Linked DNA regions of Homo sapiens: region 1 is linked to region 2. Evidence: fine-mapped expression QTL. Tissue or cell type: monocytes after Pam3CSK4. Region 2 holds a variant in brackets; the other region holds the start of a gene. All regions are shown on one strand. Distances are from middle to middle.

Evidence for each region. PIP is the estimated chance that this variant, and not a neighbour inherited with it, causes the effect.
Region 1: YWHAQ starts here. The variant in region 2 is fine-mapped to the expression of YWHAQ in monocytes after Pam3CSK4 (Quach 2016, PIP 0.95).

Annotation. Positions count from the first base shown.
Region 1 is chr2:9,629,792-9,632,401 of GRCh38, forward strand. YWHAQ (tyrosine 3-monooxygenase/tryptophan 5-monooxygenase activation protein theta) reads right to left here and starts at 1,206. Exons shown (of 6, transcript NM_006826.4): 1 at 1,150-1,206; 2 at 368-743. The coding sequence starts at 661. RefSeq lists enhancers at 1-694, 438-537 and silencers at 658-1,007, 1,208-1,307, 1,358-1,527.
Region 2 is chr2:9,752,372-9,755,124 of GRCh38, forward strand. LOC124905969 (a long non-coding RNA gene) reads left to right here and starts at 461. Exons shown (of 3, transcript XR_007086205.1): 1 at 461-597; 2 at 1,430-1,892; 3 at 2,020-2,482. RefSeq lists enhancers at 696-1,482, 1,483-2,269, 2,167-2,316. The variant GAC/G (reference allele first, on the strand shown) is at 1,086.

The DNA of each region.
Region 1 (2,610 bases), 120 kb before region 2:
GCCTGAAGCTTGTGAACCGACTGAATACATTTAAAGGGCTCACAGATCTCAGGACGCAGTCTCCCCGCACAAGAAACTTAAAAACGCCTTTCAGTCTCGCAGAGACCTACTTGGATGTTTCCAAGTTCCATCGTTTGGTAGCTACCCAGCATCTGGGGCGAAAAAAAAGGACTTATCCTTGGAAAAGCGGCTTCTTGAGTCTCAACAACCGGAGGGACACAGTAGGGAAGTCAGGGCTCACCTAAAACCCTCCACCCCAGCAGACAGTCCGGCAAGCCCCGGCTCACGTTTGTTTCCGTGCCCGCGAAACTCTCAATGAAAAGCATCTCACAAAAGGCCTCCCCTGCTCCCCGCGCCGAGGACTCACCAGCACCGTGGTGCAGATGGATCTCAGCTCGGACTCCACTTTCTCCCGATAGTCCTTAATCAGCTGCAACTTCTTGTCGGAGGTGTCGGTCTTCTGCTCGATGCTAGAGATGACCCTCCAGGCGGACCTGCGGCCCCCGACCACGTTCTTGTAGGCCACGGAGAGCAGGTTGCGCTCCTCGTTGGACAGCTCGGCGCCCTGCTCGGTCACTGCCTTCATGCAGGTGGCCATGTCGTCGTAGCGCTCGGCCTGCTCGGCCAGCTTGGCCTTCTGGATCAGCTCAGTCTTCTCCATGGCGGGCGCGGGGCCGGGGCCGGGGCGGAGGGCGAGGAGAGCGAGGGCGAGCGCCGACCCGCAGCGGGAGGAGCCTCGAGAGCTGCGGAGGGGCGGGGCGGCGAGGCGAGAACAAAAAGCAGAGAGGGAGCGCCGTCAGACAATGCGGCCCGCCGCCCGCTTTTGTCTCCCGCACACGCGGCCGCTTGAATTTCCCTCTCCCCCGCCCCCTCCCCCGCTGGGCACCCGGGGAGGCCGCGGCCCGCGGCTGGAGGAGGCGGGGGCGGCGCGGAGGCCCCGCGCGCAGGGAGCCCGAGCCGCGGCCGCTCCCGCCACCCCCGCCCGGCCGGCCCAAGATGGAAGCGACCGTTGGCCCCGCACCTTCCCGCCCGGAGCCGTCCCTGAGGGGAGCGGCATCGACAACCGGCTGCTCTCAAGGGCGGCACCTCCGCCCGGCCCTCAATCCGAGCGCGGCCGGAGGAAGCCCGCGGGCCGACCCAGGCGCTCACCTTCACGTCTCCGCGGCCGCGACGCGAGTCCCACCACTTTGATCTGCTTTTGGCTTTAGCTGAGGACCCTCCCGTGTCAGCCTACCCCGGGGCCGAGGGGCGGTCCACCGCCCAATGATGCGCCGAGCTTCTCCCGAGAGTCCCGCCCCCAGCGCGCCGCTGGCCAATGAGGACCGAGCGCGCGGAAGGGGGCGAGGGGGGCGGAGCGGGAGGGAACGCGGAGGCTAGGAGGGTGGGTCGGTACGGGGAAGTTCGGTTGGCCGGCAGGCTGCGGCTTCGGCCACGGGGTTTCCTCCAATTAGATCCAGGGTAAAAGGACGTCACTGTTGCCATGGCGATGCCGTTACCAACTCCCCTCAGCCTCCCCGCCACCCCGGCACTTCTGGGTGCGGCACGAGACCCAGAGGCGCGCACGACCTCCTAGGCGGCGGCTGCGTCTCCCGCTGCGGATGGTGCATTGCATCTCACGGGCTCTGGCCGAGGCTGGACTTCGGAGGGTGACATATTCAGCTGTTTTAGAGCACGGGGGCCTTTCTTTCCTCCACCTTTCTATCCGTGACAAAGGTTTGGATCCCAAGACACTAAACCCAGACCTTAATGACGTTGCCATTAGGGCTCCGAATTAAGCAAACCGCATCCCCATTAAAGAAGAATTGATTCTGGAGACGGTGTCTTCAGTATGGCATTTACATGATAAATTCAAGTTTTCAGATGGGCATCCTAAAACAAAAAATTCCCTTGTGAAAAGGTAGGTCCCAGAAGATCCAGGGGAGTTTCTGTGACAATGCCAAGTATTGTGGTTTTCTTTAAAATGAGAAATGACATTAAGCACAATTTGCAGGAAAACACCTATTACTACCCCTTCCCACCCCCGCAAAAAAAAACCCTGCCCATAACATCTCTCCCCGCAAAAAAAAAGCAATTTTTATGTATCTTTTAGGCTTTCCAGGTTATGCACCTAAATACATCATTTTTCACATCGTTGTCACATGTGCACACGCTTTTGTTTCTGGTATTATTTGTGAGAGGTCACTTGAAAAGCTGAAATCCTCTCCCTGGATGTTGATTTCTGATTTTCTCCTCCTGGGGAACACCCTGCTGAAGCGAGAAAGATTCCCCCAGGCCCCTCCCATTCAGGGTCATCCCTGGCAGCTCCCTTTCCTCTTAAACCACTCCTGTCTCTCCTTGCACTTCCCCAGTTCCCTAACTCCATCCAGGTAGGGTGGCTGCCCTGCCCGTCTGGCGCGTGGTCCCTGTGCCATCTTAAGATGAGAATTGCCCTCTGGGTTCACGCTGCTATGATCCCGATTCCAGCAGGTCTAAGGAGAATGGATCATAAAGAATTTCCCATTCTGAGTGGAGACTGGAGCAAATCCGGAGAATCTCTAGAATGGGAGATTTGAGAGTGCAGACAGATGGGAGGAGAAGGTGCCGACTTTCCAGAAATTCAGACTCCCTCTT
Region 2 (2,753 bases):
CGAACTCCTGACCTCGTGATCCGCCCGCCTTGGCCTCCCAAAGTGCTGAGATTACAGGCATGAGCCACGGCGCCCAGCCAGCAGTGCCTTTCTAAAGCATGAGATCCTGCCCTTCCCCAGCCTAAAACCTTCTGGTGGCTTTCAGATGAGAACTGAACTCATCCTTGGCCAACAAGGCTCCGGACAGTCCCTGCTGCCCATCACCCTCCAGGCTCAGTCTCGGGCACGGCTGCCCTGGCCGCTCTCTTGTCCTTTGCTGGGGGACTTTGCTCTTGCCATCCCATGGGCTTAGCATGCTCCTCCCAGACCTCAATGCACCTCCTCATCTCTCAGGTCTCTGCTCCCATGACCCAACCTCAGGAAGCTGGGGGTGCGGTGGGCGGGCTGTGGCCCAGGGCAGGTTTGGGGCTGTGCTTTGTGACTCAGCGCTGGTTCACTTCTCTGCACTGGGGTGTGGTGGGGGTGATGCTGCTTTTAGTCAAAGCAGCTACAAAACTCCGAGAGCAAGTCGGCCGTTTTCTACATCTGGGCTGGCCGGGCTCCTTCTCGGATTTATCACAGGCGGGCAGCCGCTGACCCCTCCCTTTGCTATTGGAGGTGAGGAGAAGGAAGGGGACACGGGCCCTGGGAACTCGCCCCTGCTGAGTTACTCTACTTTTGGCAGCCTGAAGTTCAGGCTCCTGGCCCAGCATTGCAGGTTCTCCACTGTCAGGGTGGACCCCAGGCTCAGAACCCTCATCAGCTCAGGGCTCTACCCCCGCCTGGAACCGACCCACAGACCTTCCCTTCCGTCCCTTGGCTCAGGACGCAGGCCAGGGCAAAAGTAAGGGGCACAAGTGGGGAGAAAACCTGTGGAGGTGCCTGCTTGGTGCAGGCTCAGGCAGAGGCTCTGGACATGACACTTCCCCTTTAACTGACTTATCACGCCCAACTTCCAGGCTGTGTCATGCCCATTATGCAGAGAAGTGAAATGAATCACAGAGAGTTCATTAACGGGACAAAGCCTCGCAGGGGAACAGGATTCAGTCGTAGAACTCAGGCCCAAATGACTCCGCAGCTGCTGGCACACCACGTGTGCAAGTGCA[GAC/G]ACACACACACACACACACACACACAGCCTGCCTGTGCTGCTGAGGATCGCGATAAGGACCAAGACCAAGAGAAAGAGTAGCCAAGGGGAGAGGGAAAGTCCTTTGTTGGGACAGTCCTGGTGGCAAACGGCATTTTGGCTGAGAAACCCCTTAAGTTAGATTTGACACCATGACTTGGGGTGGGGGGCACAAGCTTATCTCAGAGCCATCAACTCCCCCGCTCTGGGGTCTGGTTAATCTGTGTCAGGGACACAGCCCTGTGTGCTAAGAGGGAAGCTGGCCTTGTGTATGGGGCGGGCCGGGCACCCAAGGGCCCCGTGGCCCCCCCTTTTCTTCCCCAGGTGGCTGCCCCGCCCCAGAGGCGCTCCTGCCACCCGCCCCTCCGACGGGGGGTGCCTCCAGCCACTTGTCCACAGCCTCGGGAGTCCCCACAGCAGAGGCAGCCGTGGGAGGGTGAGTTCTGAGGAGATTGGGATCCTCTCCAGGGATGAGGGAGCCGGGCTGGAGGGGCTCTGTGGGGAGCGGGGAGACTTCGCTGGGGGACTCTGCTCCTGCTGATAGAAGAGAAGAGGAGCGCGCTATGGGCGTCTAGTGACTTGAGGCTGATAGAAAAGAAGGGGCCCCTGGCCAGGCTCCATGCTGAGGGCCGGGCGTGTTTGCTGCTTTTGAAGACAGAGAGCCTGGGGCGGGGAAGCTGGCGGCTCCTTCTTCCTCCCTCAGCTTGTCCCTTGCCCTGACCGGACACCCGGTGGGGCTCAGAGTTAATGGGGTCACAAGAGATCTACCAGCTCAGGAAAGAAGAAGGTGAGCAACAGGGACAGCTTCGGTTCTCCCATTCGGGGCGGGGTGGCCTCGGGCAGGTTACCCCATGGCTCTGCTCCTGAGCCTCCTCCCTGGGAAACTGGGCCAACACCTCCTACCTCACGGGCAGGCCGTGAGAACCAAACCTCGGAGTCATTCGCCACCAGGAAATGCAAATGAAAGCCACAGTGAGATGCCACCACACGCCCACGGCGACAGTGACAGACAATCAGTGCTGGCCGGAACGGCAGCTGCCCCCCTGACCTCCCCACTCCTCTCTGGCGGGAACGGAAAACAGCATAGCCCCCTTGGAAAACAGTTTGACCATTTCTCAGAAAGTTCCACGTCACCTCCTTATACTAGATGGGAGAAGAGTGTGTGAAGAATGATTCCATTCAGATGTTTCTAGAAAATGCACACTCATCACAGTGACAGAGGCAGATCAGAGTCTGTCTGGAGAGAGAGGGTGGGCAGGGGCAGGAGGGACGGGCGACAGAGGGGCACATGGCTTCAGGGGGCGGTTTCACAGGTGTAGACATGTCAAACTCATCAAATTGTACTGCTTCATTAAATGTCAGTTATACCTGGGTAAAGCTGTAGAAAATATCTTTTTGGAGGCAATAAAGGGTGGATTTACACTGAAAAAAAAAATGCAAGGCAAGTGAGGCACCTGGCACAGGACTGTTCAGTCAATGCCGACTGCTGAACATGTGAGCCCAGTTTCTCGCAACTTCCATTCATTCTTTCCTCCCAGAACATGGAAACGGAGCAAGGGGAGGGACAGGAGCTCTCAGTCCTGCCTTCAGGAGCGCCCAGAGACACGCTTCACAGAACTGGGTCGGGGTGCTAGGGATCCAGGTCAGG